Linked DNA regions of Homo sapiens: region 1 is linked to region 2. Evidence: fine-mapped expression QTL. Tissue or cell type: whole blood. Region 2 holds a variant in brackets; the other region holds the start of a gene. All regions are shown on one strand. Distances are from middle to middle.

Evidence for each region. PIP is the estimated chance that this variant, and not a neighbour inherited with it, causes the effect.
Region 1: ALOX12B starts here. The variant in region 2 is fine-mapped to the expression of ALOX12B in whole blood (TOPMed, PIP 0.99).

Annotation. Positions count from the first base shown.
Region 1 is chr17:8,083,893-8,091,983 of GRCh38, forward strand. It overlaps ALOX12B (arachidonate 12-lipoxygenase, 12R type), which reads right to left and starts at 3,824. Exons shown (of 15, transcript NM_001139.3): 1 at 3,404-3,824; 2 at 2,124-2,328. The coding sequence starts at 3,550. MIR4314 (microRNA 4314) reads left to right here and starts at 4,164; the gene lies at 4,164-4,255. RefSeq lists an enhancer at 2,852-3,600.
Region 2 is chr17:8,059,351-8,067,451 of GRCh38, forward strand. No RefSeq gene overlaps it. Among named protein-coding and RNA genes, the nearest start is that of ALOX12B, 24 kb to the right of the region's middle. RefSeq lists an enhancer at 4,997-5,498. The variant C/T (reference allele first, on the strand shown) is at 4,833.

The sequences.
Region 1 (8,091 bases), 25 kb after region 2:
TCACACCTGTAATCCCAGCACTTTGGGAGGCCAAGGCAGGCAGATCACAAGGTCAGGAGATCGAAACCATCCTGGCTAACACGGTGAAACCCCATCTGTACTAAAAATACAAAAAATTAGCCGGGCGTGGTGGCACTCGCCTGTAGTCCCAGCTACTCAGGAGGCTGAGGCAGGAGAATCACTTGAACCTGGAAGGTGGAGGTTGCAGTGAGCCGAGATTGCGCCACTGCACTCCAGGGCGACAGAGCGAGACTCCATCTCAAAAAAAAAAATTTGAAAATATGCCCAAATGTCCAGCTAGTCAGTGGAAGAACTGAGACCTAAGTCCAGGTCCGTCTTTCTCCAGCACCCTGGCTGGTGGTCCCCAGGCTGGCCTGTGCCTACCGCTGCAGCCCATCATTTCCCCTCAAGTCCCTTACCTCACCACCCTCTCCCTCCTCCACCTGCCTCAGCTCATGTTGTATTCTGGATGAACAGTGCTCCCTGGAGTTGTGCAACCCAGAGACCTAGCTCGTTTTCATCCCCAGGGCGGAAGACTCACTCCTTTGAGGGCCCTATGGGTGACTCAAGTCTCCCTGTCCTGTTGCGTGGCAGCGGCCCCACCCAACCCCATTCCTGCCTGGCCACCAGCATCACCCTGCCTGTCCCCTGCTTCCATGTCACCCAGACCTGTCACTGCAGGAAGATGCTCTGTGTCCCCAGTGAGACCCTCCCCTTGGCATGCTCACCATCTCCCAGGCTTTCCTCGCCTCTCCTTTCCCCAGCTCAGGCCCTGTTCCCCAATCCTGGGGGAAGATTCCAGCACAGGGCAATGAGAAACGGAAGAGAGGTAGTCAGCTGCAGGGAGGATGGGGCTTCGGGCCCTGGGTGTCCTCAGCTCAGCCTTTCCCTCCCATTCGCCTCAAGGGAAGCCAACAGACACTCAGGTGGTGGAACTGGGAGATAAGAGAGGACAGGCCCCCAGTCCTCATGCAGCACCACAAATTAGGAAGCTGACCCCAGCCCACCACACAAGGGGCTCTGGCAGGGGTGGGTGCAAGGAGCTCAGCCACTCCGGTCCTATGTCTCTCCCATGGGAGTAACCAAGCAAGTGGAAAACCCACTGGGCAGCCTTGGCCAGCCTTAACCTTGGAGAAACCCTGACAGTCTATCTGAATAACAGGGCCCCTATTAGATAGATCCTTACTGGATTAAGGGGGGCCTTTTGGAGTAACAGTGCATCCTGTTAGAGAAATATGGTGTCCTGTTGGGAAAATAGGGAGTCCTTTGGAGCAATAGAACATCCCATCAGTCTAAAAAATGCTCAATTAGAAAACTGGGGCTCATGCCTGTAATGCCAGCACTTTGGGAGGCTGAGGCAGGCAGATCACCTGAGTTCAGGAGTTTGAGACCAGCCTGGCCAACAAAGTGAAACCCCATCTCTACTAAAAATGCAAAAACTAGCATCAGGAGGCTGAGGCAGGAGAATCGCTTGAACCTGGGAGGTGGAGGTTGCAGTGAGCCGAGATCGTGCCATTGCACTCCAGCCTGGGCAACAAGAGTGAAACTCCGTCTCAAAAAAAGAAAGCCAGGGCGTCATAATTATAAGACCGCAGCACCACGGAGACCTGTTGAACTCAAAGGGCTTCTAAATGGGATAGCAAGGTGCTGGTTGGAATAATGGGGCATCCTGTTATAGTAACAGAATCCTGCTGGAGTAACAGGGCGTCTTTCTGGAGCGCATATGATTGGCATCATAAATAGGCCTCCTGTGAGAGTCCTGAGCCTGTACTTAGCATCACAAGGGGTATTTTTAACGTGGCCGGGCATCTTATAGGAGTCAGGGAGGACTGGAGAGGTAGCGGGGAGCGCACTCTGGGAATGCTGTCTGCTGCCAGATGGGGATGCTGAGGGTAGCTGCTGGGCCTCAGGCACCTCTCTTCCTCCAATGTGCAGCCCCAAGCTGAGCTCAGGGCAGCAGCACTGACTGAGGGAAATGTGTGACAGTGGCAGGAGAGCCCAGGAGTCCCTGGTGGGGCTGGGCCCCCCTCTGGCTTGATGGGAGCCTGGGTGCCATGCCAGGGTAGCAGGCTGGAGCTAGAGGCCTCACGGCCATAGGATGGAGCAGGGTGATGAGGGCTTACCTGTGGCCTCCCGGAGTGCCAGGGTCTCGTAGCCATCCATCCACTGGTAGGCGGGGAAGTGGTAGATACGGCCGTTGGGGGCACAGATCTGCACATAGTTGCAGTACCAAGGGTCCTTGGGGAAGAAGGCGTACCGCTCTTTGTGCAGGCGGATGATGATGAGCTCACCCAGGTCCTGAGGGCACTGCACGGTGTACTGGCCCACCTAGGCAGGATGCAAGCCTGGCTGAGTGGGCAGGACTTCACCCCGGCTCCCAGGCCGCCCACCCCTCTGGCCCCTCACCTAGGCCCTGCTCATGCTGCGCAATGCTCACCTCCCTGGACTGACGGAGGGACAGGATATTGACCTGATCATTGAGCTTCCTTCTGACTTCTCCAGCTTGGGGGTCTCCTACTGGATTCCTCTACCCAGGGCTATGTAGGACTCCAGCCCCTCCTTCTCTCCATCCCCAGCTCCTGTCTTCTCCCACTCCCCTCTCCAGGCACCTGAGGTTGCAGGAACCCTTCAGACCCCTGGGGACTTGGGTACCACTCTACAGTTTTCGAGTGGGGAGAGGCCCAGCCAGCCCCTTCTCCCATTCATCAATGAAGATGCAGATATTCAGAATGGCCACATAGATAGAGTGACCTATTAAGGTCGCCTAGCAGCAGGTGGCTGGGTCTGACTGAAAATCAGGTCTGAGGACCCGCAAAGCGTGCCTTCCACTGGACAGGCTGGTCTGATGCCATTTTAAGTCACAGAGAATCCAGTGCAAATGTGAGACAGTTAGGAGGCAGCTGAATTAGGAAGAGTGACTGAGAATGGAAGAGAGAGGGATGCGGGAGAGGGGGTAAGACAGAAAGGGGAGGAGAGCAAAGGGGAAGGAAAGCAGGTGGAAAGGATTGAGAAAAGAGAGATGCAGGATAGGCAGAGACAGGGAGAGAGGGCTGAGGAAGAGGGAGAGAGAAGAAAAGGATGGGGAGGGAGATGAGGAATGCCTGAAAGGGTTAGAGATGAAGGAGCAGGATGGAGAAGGATGGCCCAGAGATCTGGGACATGGGCGAGGGGCTGGAAGCCAGCTCTGGACAAGGCGTGTAGAGCCACTGGGGAGCCCACTGCCTTCGGAGCTGTGCCTCAGCTCTCCAGCCTCTCCTCGCCAAGCTCAGCTCACCTGGCTCCCCCTGCGCACCTTCACCCCTCCCGGGGCCACAAAGACACACAGACACACACAGACACACACAGACACACACACACACACACACAGACACACACACACACACACACACACACACACTCTTACCGCCCCAGTTGCAAAGTCTCTCCCAAAGTGGTTCAGCAGCTGCTTATGGCTCTCTCCTTGTGTCCCCACAATGGTCAGTGAGATGGAGTCCCGTGTTCCCGACAAGAGGTCGGTGCCTGTGGCCACCCTGACTTTGTAGGTGGCCATGGCTGCTCTTCAGGAGGCAAGAGGGGCACTCAGTCCCAGACACCGTGGAGGGGCCACACGAAGGCCCAAGGCAGGCAAGAGAAGCCAGGCACAGAGTGGAGTGGACAGGGCTGGCCTCCGAGGTGCAGTGGTGAGGTGGCGAGGTGGGGTGACTAGGCCTGCCAGCCAAATTCTGGAAAAGCTGCTGCCCTTGGTGGCCGGGGTGGGTGCCGGGCAGGCCCAGGCGGAGCCCAGCTGGTGGTGAGTGAGCAGGTGTCTGGGCTCCAAGCCTTCTGGGAGCTGGTGGGGAGGAAGAGCAGGCAGGGCACTGGGCCTGCCTCTGAAAGGGCGGATAGAAGATGCCGTGGATGAAGGCGCCTTCAGGGTGGGGGAGCCAGTCCAGCCTGAGCCAGGGCCCTAGGGAAGTTGCGGGAGGGGGCAGGGTGTGGTCCCCAGATCTTTATCAGACTAATAAGCTCCTTCCTCCTGCCAGTCCCCATTGGCTACAGTGCCAGGCACCCCTACTAAGCAGGGCCATGGGCAGTGAGTGACTTGCATTGGTTCTGAGGCCACTGGTGGGCGGGGGAGGGGAGGGGGAGGGGCACTAAGTGGCAGCGCAGCTGGCCAGCCTCCAGGCCATTCCTCTCTGGGAAATGGGACAGGTAGTGGCCACAGTGAGAAAGCTGGCCTGTCCTTCTGCCCCAGGGCCCAGAGTCTGTGACTGGAAGGGTGGGAGGTGTTGAAGCTAGGGCTCGGGGACCACATGGGTGCCCAAAGGCCTGAAGATGCTGCGGGGAGGAACGATCAGGGTAGGAGAAGGGGATCTGTTGCTTCCTGTGGGGCCAGGATCCACTGGTGAGGGATTGGAGTTGGATATAAAATCAGAAGCCCAAAAAAAAAAAAAAAAAAACTAAATTAGAAGACAGAGTGAAATCTGGGGCATAAGAATTAAGTTAAATAGCTGGGCGTGGTGGCTCACGCCTGTAATCCCAGCACTTTAGAAAGCCAAGGCAGGTGGGTCACCTGAGCTCAAGAGTTCGAGACCAGCCTGGCCAACATGGTGAAACCTTGTCTCTACTAAAAATACAAAAATTAGCCAGGCGTGGTGGCATGCGCCTGTAGTCCCAGCTACTTGGGAGGCTGAGGCAGGAGAATCGCTTGAACTCAGGAGGCGGAAGTTGCAGTGAGTTGAGATCGTGCCACCGCACTCCAGCCTGGGCAACAGAGCAAGACTCCGTCTCCAAAAAAAAAAGACAAAAGAATTAAGTTAAATAATGGATTAATATGATCAATATTTTGTGGTATAATCATAAAATAGAATTCTACCCAGGAATAAAAAGAATGAACTGCAATGCGGATGAGTCTCACAAAGATGATACTGAGCAAAAAGAGCCAGACATTAAAGGGGATACGTTCTGTTATCCATTGATAGGAACTTCCAGAACCAGCAAAACTGAGCAATTCTCAGACAACCTCTACTGGTGAGTATCCCTGGCAGAGGGAGGCCATATAGGCTGCTGGAGGTGTTCTTATCTTGATCTGAGGGGCGTCTAGGGTACTTCATTCATTTCATTATGTGTTATCCTTTAATTTCATAAAGTACATACCCTCACTTCCCTCCCAAAAAAGAATGAAGCTAGGAAGAGGGCTGGAGGCAGGGCTGAGCTCCAGTGGAACTGTGTTTGTTGGGAACCAGGTCGTTCCTCCCTCAGATATGTAGTGAGCACGGTGCACGGCGTTCTAGGCACTGCAGAGGCAGAGAAGAAATGAAACATACATGGAGCTTACGGAATAGCTGGGAAAGAAGTGAAAGAAACAGTAAACAAGAATTTGTTCACTATAATTTTGGATACTAAGTGCTCTGAAGAAAATAAGCGTGGGAGGTTGGGATTGGGAACTAGTTGCTGATAGAATCACAGAAGTCAGAGCCGCAGGATAGGGAGAAGGTGTTAGGAGTAAGGTGAAGAGCATTATGAGAGAGTCAGAGATAGACTCTCCAAAGATAGGATTTGGGACCCAGGGAGAGTGAGGAGGCAGGCACGTTCCTATTCCCTTTTTCTGGACCTGTCCTCTTTCCTTTCACCTCCGAGGAGCAGCTTCTGTCAACCAGGAAGCATAGCCCTGCTTTCCTCCCTGATGGCACGCTTCCATCACCATCGAAGGAAGGTCATTCAATGCCCAGGCCAAGTTAGGGTCAGAGGGGGCTGGGATTGTGAGATGAAGAGAAGGTTCCAGTAGGTTCCAGACTGGATGTGGAATGGGGTCGAAACTGCAATTCAGGTTTAGGTTAGAGACACAGATGTGGCTGGAGTTGGGGATTGAAATGATCTTTTCCAGACCCAAATCTGTTCACATCACTCTCTATGTTCCCTCCTCCCAACCCTGATCAAGCCTGGCAGTGGCTCCTCTTTACCTTTGGGACAGTGACACCATCCCCTCCCGTGGCCCCCACGGCCTGCCTGATTGGCTTCACCCCTCACATTCCCCTTTGCTCTCTTCTGTCTGGGACCACGTGCCTTTCATTCATTCATCAACAGACACTGGCCGAACCCCTACTGTGTGTTCAGCGCTGTGTCAGGTCCTGAAAATACAATGCGATCAAAGCAAACCCCTGCACCCATGGAGCTTGCCTTCAAGTGAGGGAAGCAGACAATATTACCTAGTAACCAAATACATTAAATAGTATGTTAAATAGTGATAAGTGCTGAAGAGAAAAGAGAGAACAGGGAAGGATAATATAAAAAATAGAGGAGTGCCGGGCATGGTGGCTCATGCCTGTAATCCCAGCACTTTGGGAGGCTGAGGTGGGCGGATCACCTGAGGTCAGGAGTTCGGGACCAGCCTGACCAACATGGAGTAACCCCGTCTCTACTAAAAATAAAAATTAGCCGGGCATGGTGGCGCATGCCTGTAATCCCAGCTACTCGGGGGCTGAGGCAGGAGAATAGCTTGAACCCAGGAAGCAGAGGTTGCAGTGAGCCAAGGTCATGCCATTGCTATCAAGCCTGGGCAACAAAAGCGAAAATCCATCTCAGAAAAAAGAAAAGGAGGATATTTTAGATACAGAGTGGCCAAGGAGGGCTCCTTGGGAAGAAGACTTTTGAGTAAAGACCTGAAGGAAGTGAAGTCAGCTCGTCACCATCCCAGGGCCTTGGCACATGCTGTTCCCTCTCTACCTCTCAAACTGAGGTCACGTTTCCTCTTCCTCCTGATCTTAGCTCAATAATTGCTTTTTCCAGGAAAGCCAAATTTCACTATACATGGCTCTCACAGCACTATAGCTAACATCTTTGATTGATGTCTGTTTTCTCTAATAAATTAGTCCATACTTTTTTTTGGTTTTGTCCCCATCTCCTGGTGTCATACTTGGTACCTGGGAGACACCGAAAACATAGTTGAATGGGTTAATGACAAGGACAAGGTCAGGGCTGGGGATTGAATCGATGATGGCTTTGGAGTTATGGTGAAGATCCGAAGAGAGCTGACTTGGGCTCAGGGTGAGAGAAGGGGCAAGGCGTGGTGTAGGGGAGGGAAAGGGGTTGGGTGGGGAGGGAGGGAGGAGAGGGGAGAAGGCTGAGGATGAGGGTTGTGCCCAGCTCTGGGTGGCAGGGCTGGCTGTCCTGGGCTGCAGACAGAAGCCGTCCAGCTGGATCTCCCCCCTGGGATCTCCCTCCTCAACCACCTCGATGACTCTTGGAGGATGCTGGGAGCCTGAAGATGCAAATCTTAAGATGCAAATTCCATGCAAATTCTCCCAGCTTCCTCTTTCTAATCTCTCCCCTTTGCCCTGTGTCCCCAGGGGGCTGCTGAGGCTTGGTGAGAAGCAGGGCAGTGGACTGGGCAAACTGAGTCATATCCTGCTACCAATAGGTCTCCTCCAACCCAAATCCCAGGGTGGCCCTGGGTTTGCTCAGGGCTCCAGTGTGGAGTGGGAATTAGGTTCCTGAGGGAGACGGAGATGGAGGCAGGGATGCTGAGGATGTCAATGTGGCTGGGGCAGGGACAGGGACGGGATCAGGCATGAGGATGTAGATGGGGCACTCCCCAGCTATGACCAAAACGTAGACGCGTGACTCTTGATAGGTGCTCATTGGGCTGAAGAACTGGTTCTCCTGGACCAGGGGCGGGAGCCAGTGAGGAGGAGAGGTTTCTGGGAAGGATTCACACTCACTGGGGTTGCTAACTAGGGGCCATCCACACAGGAAGCTGAGTTCTCACTGCTGGGGTATCCCCCGTGCCTGACCCCACCCCAAGCCCTGCAAGGCAAGGAGCAACTAACTCCTGGGGACCCACTCTCCTAAGACACAGAGAAAGAAAAATCAAATCACGCCACTCCCCTGCTTAAAGTTCACCAGAGCTTAAAATGGGGTTGTCCGTAGAAATGAATCCAAGGGCCAGGCGCGGTGGCTCATGCCCATAATCCCAGCACTTTGGGAGGCCAACACAGGCGGATCATGAGGTCGGGAGTTCAAGACCAGCCTGACCAACATGGTAAAACCCCGTCTCTACTAAAAATACAAAAATTAGCCGGGCGTTGTGGCACGCGCCTGTAATCCCAGCTA
Region 2 (8,101 bases):
ATTGGCGCCAGCTACAGCAGGGAGTACAGGCTTAGATTTATGTTTCCCAAAAGCTATCTCTCTGCTTCCAGGGAAATCCCCTCAAAAAGTCCCCACTGGAGTATTTGGCCCTTTACCTGATGGACAGTTGGACTTGTTTTAGGAACATCTAGTCTAAACTTAAAAGGAGTTCAGATTCATACTGGGCTGATTGATTCAGATTTTGTGGGAGAAATTCAATTGGTTATTAGTTCCAGTATTCCTTGGAGTGCAAACCCAGGAGATAGAATTGCTCAGCTGTTGTTATTACCTTATGTAATAGTAGAAAAAAGTACAGTAAAAAGAGAAAGTGGTTTTGGCAGTACTGACAGTGAAGGAAAAGCAGCCTATTGAGTAAATCAAGCTTCTAAAAACAGACCTGTGTGCACAATGATTCAGGGAAAACAGTTTGAAGGACTGGTAGACACAGGTGCTAATATTTCAATTATAGCTCTAAATCAGTGGCCAAAAGCGTGGCCCCGACAAAAGGCTTCTATGGGCTTGATTGGAGTAGGCACAGCATCTGAAGTCTATCAAAGTGCTACAATTTTACATCGTTTAAGACCAGATGGGCAGGAAGTCACCATCCAACCTATGATTACTTTCATTCCCATTAATTTGTAGGGGAGAGATTTGTTACAGCAATGGGGTACAGAAATCACCATTCCCCCTGCAATTTACAGTCCTGAGAGCCAAAGAATGATGACCAAAATGGGATATATTCCTGGGAAAGGATTAGGAAAAAAATGAGGACGGAATAACCCAGCCGATTGAGGTCTCAGTTAAATTTGACCGAAGAGGAATTGGATATCCTTCTTAGGTGCGGCCACTGTTGAGCCTCCAAAGCCCATTGCATTAAAACGGAAAACTCCAAAACCTGTTTGGGTTGATCAGTGGCCGCTTCCTCAACAAAAACTGGAGGCATTACATTCATTGGCAAAAGAACAATTAGACAAAGGACATATTGAACCATCTTTTTCACCATGGAACGCCCCAGTTTTTGTAATTCAGAAAAAATTCGCTAGATGGCGCATATTGACCGACTTATGAGCGGTTAACGCAGCCATTCAACCGATGGGAGCTCTCCAACCAGGGTTGCCATCTCCGGCCATGATCCCAAAAGAATGGCCGATGGTAATAATTGATCTAAAAGATTGTGTTTTTTACTATTCCTTTGGCTCCTCAGGATTTTGAGAAATTTGCATTTACAATACCTGCCATGAATAACAAGGAACCAGCTACTATATATCGATGGAAAGTTGTACCCCAAGGAATGTTAAATAGTCAAACTTTTGTTGGAAAGGTTATTCAGCTTGTCAGGGATCAGTTTCCTGATTGCTATATTATTCATTATGTTGATGACATTTTATGTGCTGCTGCAAGCAGGGACAGACGGATTGAGTGTTTTGCTAGGCTACAAGAAGTGGTGGGACTTACAGGTCTCGCTATAGCACCAGATAAAATCCATACTACACCCTATCATTACCTGGGAATGAGGGTACAGGAGAAAACAGTAAAGCCTCAAAAGGAGGAAATTCGTAAAGAGTCCTTAAAAACCTTAAATGATTTCCAAAAATTATTAGGGGACGTTAATTGGATAAGACCTACTTTAGGAATTCCCACCTAAGCAATGTCTAAACTGTTTGCTTTGCTGAGATGGGATCCAAATTCATGTAGCAAAAGAACTCTGATGCCTGCTGCAGCTGAAGAGTTACAAATGATTGAGGAAAAAATTCAAAGTGCTCAAGTCCGTAGAAGAGATCCTAGTGTTCCATTACAGCTCTTAGTGTTCCCTACTCTCCATTCTCCTATAGGAGTGATTGTTCAAAATGTTGACTTAGTTAAATTGTCCTTTTTAACGCACAGTACGACTAGAACTTTCTCAATTTATTTAGATCAAATAGCTATTCTTATAGGCCAAATACAACTGAGAATAGTCAGACTCATTGGCACCGATCGAGATAAAAATGTAGTTCCTTTAAACAAAGCACAGGTTCGACAAGCCTTTATTAATTCGTCAGAATGGCAGTCAAATCTGGCTGATTTTGTTGGCAGTATAGATATTCATTACCCTAAAACTAAAATGTTTCAGTTCCTAAAAATTGACTACCTAAATTTTACCCAAAATAACTAGTTCCATTCCTTTGGAGGGAGCCGTAACTATCTTTACTGATGGCTCTCAGAATGGAAAAGCAGCTTATACAGGACCGGAAGAAAAGATTATTCAAACTCAGTTTCATTCTGCACAAAGAGCTGAGCTACAAGCAGTTATATCTGTATTGGAAGATTGTAATCAACCTGTTAATATAATCTCTGACTCTGCTTACGTATTCCAAGCTGCCAAAATGGTAAAAACAGCTTTAGTAAAACATATTTCTGATGATCAGTTAAATTTCTTGTTTAGTTCACTTCAACAAGCAGTTAGGACTCAAAATTTTCCCTTTTATATTACACATATTTAGGCTCACACAAACTTACCAGGACCTTTAACCCTATTAAATAATCAAGCAAATTTATTAGTGACGCCTGTTCTAACAGTGTCCGGCCTCTGAGCCCAAGCTAAGCCATCATATCCCCTATGACCTGCACGTATACATCCAGATGCCCTGAAGCAACTGAAGAATCACAAAAGACGTGAAAATGGCTGGTTTCTGCCTTAACTGATGACATTACCTTGTGAAATTCCTTCTCCTGGCTCAGAAGCTCCCCTACTGAGCACCTTGCAACCCCCGCCCCTGCCCGCCAGAGAACAACCCCCTTTGACTGTAATTTTCCACTACCTACCCAAATCCTATAAAAGGGCCCCACCCCTATCTCCCTTCGCTGACTCTCTTTTCGGACTCAGCCCACCTGCACCCAGGTGAAATAAACAGCCTTGTTGCTCACACAAAGCCTGTTTGGTGGTCTCTTCACACAGACGCGAACAAAAGCTCAAAACTTCCATTCCCTAATTCATGTAAATGCTGCTGGATTAAAAAATAAATATTCATTTACCTGGAAACAAGCTAAAAATATAGTACAACATCCTCAGTGCCAAGTGCTACAGCTACCCACCCAAAAACCTGAAGGTAACCCTAGGGGGCTTCAACCAAATGCAGTGTGGCAAATGGACATGACTCATGTCCCATCATTCGGAAAACTTTCTTTCGTACATGTTACTGTTAATACTTTTTCTCGGTTTATCTGGGCTACACGCCAAACTGGAGAAAGCACAGCTCACGTAAAACGACATTTATTATCTTGTTTTGCAGTCATGGGTGTGCCACAGAAAGGAAAAATGGTCTGGTGGAAGGATACCAGAACCAAAACTTGGAAATTAAGAAAAAGTATTACTTGGGGGAGGGGTTTTCCTTGTGTTTCACCAAGAGACAATCAAACACTCATTTGGATACCCAATAGACATTTAAAATTCTACAATGAACCCTACACCGACCGGTCAGAAAAAAGGAAAGAATCAAAAGAGAAAGAAGACCGGTCCCTTCGACCTGTCTTTTCGGGAGCTGAGGAAAATGGTGAAGCTGAGCGTCTCGGAGAAAAAACAGAAGACGGAGAAGACTCGCTAGGCTACACCACTGACATGGGGACAGATAAAGAAGCTGACTCAATTGGCAGAGGACACCCTAAAGGAGAAACAACTAGCGATTACACCGGGTAATATGATCTTGGCTGCCTTGATGGTAATCACCACGGCGGTAAGTCTCTCTGCTGTTTCAGCTAAGCAAAATTTTACTACTGGGCTTATGTTCCATTTCCTCCTTTGATTAGACCTGTCACTTGGATGGACTCCCCTACTGAAGTTTATACAAATGGTAGTATCTGGATGCCTGGGCCGACTTATGATAGCTGTCCTGCATAGCCTGAGGAGGAGGGCATGTTAATGAATGGGATAATTGGGTATAAATACCCTCCAGTTTGTTTAGGAATTGCTCCTGGATGTTTGCCATTACAAATACAAAGTTGGATGGTCTACGTACCTCCTCATAATCGTTCTCAACCTAGTTATCACGTAGTGAGTGGAATGTCTTTTCAACCCATCAGGACTGTAAAAACTTAAGGGGATAGTTATTATCAGTCAAATATAAAAGTCCAAAATTGCAAGCCTAAGGGATTGGCTTGCCCTAAAAGGAATCCAGAATGGTCAGAAAAATGAGAAATTCTTACTTGGGAGGTTTGTGTGGCAGATAATGCGGTAGTTTTGCGAAATGGTTCTCATGGGGTCATTATAGACTGGGCTCCTAAGGAATCTTTTGCTAGAAATTGCACCGGACAAAACGCTGGGTGCGCTGGGGACTCCTTTATGATCGAATATAGAAATGATCCATATAATCCCCCCACTTTAGTTAGAAGATTTGAATCAACATACCCATTAAAGTGGGAAGATAAAGATACTGCTCCCCCTCCACCAAAAATTAGTCCGGTCGTGGGTCTGGAACATCCAGAATTGTGGAAGTTGCTTATGGCGACCTCCGGAATGAGAGTGTGGAAAGGGGAAGCGTCCTGGGGAACAAAAGGTAATAAGCCACTCTTTACTATGCCTTCTCCCTCTGCCCACTCCCCCGCCCCCCGAAAGGAAGACCTCCAGGTGACGCTCCCTGAGGACTCGGGCCAGGTGCTGCTGCTGCGTTTGCACAAGGCGTCCCCCGCCTCCCCTCCCCTCTGCCACCCCTCCCCCCGCCGGCCTCCCCGCCTCCCCCACCTCACCCCTACCCCCTCCGCCCCCCGCCCCCCGCCACGCTGCCTCGCCCCCTCTAGGTCCGGCCCAGACTCCGGGGTCTGCCGCTGGGTCCAGCTGAGGCTGCTGGGGACCCCCTCCG[C/T]TCCCCCTTACCAGTGGCTGGAGGGGGCAGGCAAAGGGCAGGGCCGGGGCTGCAGGAGGGGCATGGAGGGAGCGAGGGGGACCAGGGTGGTCATGGGTCAGGGGAGGGGGGCTGGTGTGGACACAGTGGGGAGGGGGGAGGCAGAAAGGTGACATGAGGGGCACGGGAAGGAGGAGGTGGGATGGTTGGGAGGAACCATACTCAGGGAGGGGAGGATGGAAGATAAGTGGGGGAGGGGAGCACCGGCTCTGACAAGAGGATTAGGTGGGGAAGTTGAGTGGTGGATCAGTGAGTGGAAGAGGGAGAAGCTGGTGGAAAGAGAACAGGCCTGTGAAGCAGAGGGGTTGGGGGCAGAACATCGTGGCCCAGTATTGGGGGTGGTGGGTGTAGCTATGTCTTCTCTTTCCTCTTCCCACCGACTTTACTCTTTGGTCCCCTCTGGCCTGGGCTGTTGAGTTGGGGCTCAGTGAACGGATGGGGACGACCTCAGGTGCTGAAGCAGGTGCTGAAGCAGGGTCTGCCGTGGGGGGAAGGTGGAGTGGGCAGGGCTTCTCCATCCCTGGGGGAAGAGGCAAAGCAGACGCAGAGGCCAGGGGCTGGCCAACACCCTGGTTCAAAGATGCTCCCACCCCAGGTCTGGGGAGAGGAGGGGAGAGGCTGGGGGCTAAGATCTCCCTTTCTGCACCTGGATCCCCTCCACAGCCTGGGCCATTCTGTCTTTGTTTCTGCAGGAACACTGCCCTGAAACTGCAGGACTGCTGGGCAGCCAGGGGTCTGGAAAAGGGATCAGTGTACCTTCATCTTCCCCACACCAAGGTGTCAGGTCCGCAGGGTGAGGGAGGAAGGGCGAGGTGGCTGCAGCAGGGCAAGAGGGTCCTTGGTGGCAACCTTGTGGGACTGAGAACCAGAAAGCCAAAATTAGAACATTCTGGAAATCACAGGACTTGTTCTGTGCTGCCACCAGTTCCTACCTGTCCTTTGAAGAAGCTCACTTCTGCCCTGAGAATGTGCACGTCCTGCCATTGTGCTCGGCTCACTGCAACCTCTGCCTCCTGGGTTCAAGCGATTCTCCTGCCTCAGCCTCCTGAGTAGCTGGGACTACAGGCACCCACTACCACACCTGGCTAATTTTTGTATTTTTAGGAGAGACGGGGTTTCACCATGTTGGTCAGGCTGGTCTCGAACTCCTGACCTCCTGATCTGCCCACCTCAGCCTCCCAAAGTGTTGGGATTACAGGGGTGAGCCACCACGCCCAGCCCAGCAGTGGCTTCTGTGTGGGAAGAAGGTCAGGGCTGAAGGACCCTGGGAGGATGCCCCACCCAACATGTCCTCTCTCATCGTGGGGTAATTGCCCATGTTTGCCCAGCCATTCTCACCTATCAGGGCTTCCAAAAGAATGGCCAAAGTAAGTTCTAACAACTTTGCTTCTTTGCCAAGGCAAGCACCAATGCTACTTTTCTGCCCTCTCTGGATGCCCGTGACTTCGGTCCCACAGGAAGCCAAGCTCCTGAGGCAGCTGAAATTCAGTCAGGGGACTGGGGTCTGTGTACTGATCTACACCCCACTTCATACCTACTTCTTCAAACTGTCCCCAACACTGGGAACACCTGTCCTTGAATATCCTCAGCAATTTAAGGGGAAAAAAAGGCTGAAGCAGAAAGACTTTTTCCTTCCAAAATTGTGCCTGCTTGCTTGGGGGCCTAGGCATGCAGACTTGAAAATAAATCAAGCTTGGGTGGGGCATGGTGGCTCCCGCCTGTAATCCCAGCACTTTGGAAGGCCGAGGCAGGCCAGGCAGGGTGAGGAGGATCACAAGGTCAGGAGATCGAGACCATCCTGGCTAACATGGTGAAACCCTGTCTCTACTAAAAATACAAAAACAAAATTAGCCAGGGTGGTGGCGGGTGCCTGTAGTCCCAGCTACTCTGGAGGCTGAGGCAGGAGAATGGCATGAACCCAGGAGGCAAAGCTAGCAGTGAGCGGAGATCGCACCACTGCACTCCAGCCTGGGCGACAGAGAGAGACTATAGAAAGAAAGGAAGAAAGAAAGGAAGGAAGGAAGGAAACTAAGCTTAGGAGGCCGAGGCAGGTGGATCACCTGAGGTCAGGAGTTTGAGACCAGCCTGACCAACACAGCAAAACCCCGTCTCTACTAAAAATACAAAAATTAGCCACGCATGGTGGCAGGCACCTGTAATCTCAGCTACTCAGGAGTCTGACGCAGGAGAGTTGCTTGAACCTGGGAGGCAGAGGTTGTAGTGAGCCGAGATTGCGCCACTTCACTCCAGCCTGGGCGAAAGAGCGAAACTCCGAATAAATAAATAAATAAATAAACAAACAAGCAAACCAAGCTGGAAGATTCAGTAGTGCTCACTCTCCAATATCCTTGTTGCCGCTGGGTGCACGATGCATTTAAACTATACAGGTCAAACTCTTGGTTCAGAAACCCTAGCACCAGTGCCACGCCCCAAAGCAATGCAACCTCTTATTAAATGATCACTCTGGTTTAACAAATCATCTACACTGCCTTGTGACAAAGTAGCAGGAGAATGGGACCCGGGACTGGTGAGTTTTGGCAGGGAATCAAAAGGGCCTCTCTGAGCGGAAGCCCGGAAGGACGGGCCGTTCTGGTATCCAGCATTCTTTAGTATTCCAGTTTTCTCAAATTCAACTTATCCTAGGTGAGGTCTTAGTGCACATCACAGAGCATGTTAGGCTTCCCTCAAAACGGGTGGGGCCAAGGGAGTTCAGATGACTCCTCAGGCAGAAACCAAACCTGCGATCCTTTGTTGTCTAAGAAAACCACTTGGAAAAGTAAAGTCATCCAACCCGTTGTGCTAGAGAGGAGGGAAGCCCAGCCCAGCCATCAGCATCAGGAAGTGGCTATGCTGGGAAGTTGGAGATGGGTCTGACAGTGGTGGCCATGCTGCAGGCAGAGGACCAGGGTGACTCTCCCCACGCCTACCCTCTGCAGAGTATGCATTTCAGACTAGAAGGAGGATGAGGACACCTTTTTCGCCTCCTTCACCTCCTAGTTTCTGAATGACCTCAACTCCATCCTGATCCACTGCTGTCACTGACTCCCAAAGAATTTTCTGGTCACTGATGCCATGATGGTCCCTGCGCTGGACCCTGGGACCAGTCTGCAGGCTGAGCGGGCGCCAGTGGAGGGAGGGGCATTGTTCTGAGATGGTGAGGGCTGAGGGGCAGGGCTGAGTGAGGAATGTGCTCTCTCCTGCTACTTTGCCAGGAGCCATGCATTGACAGG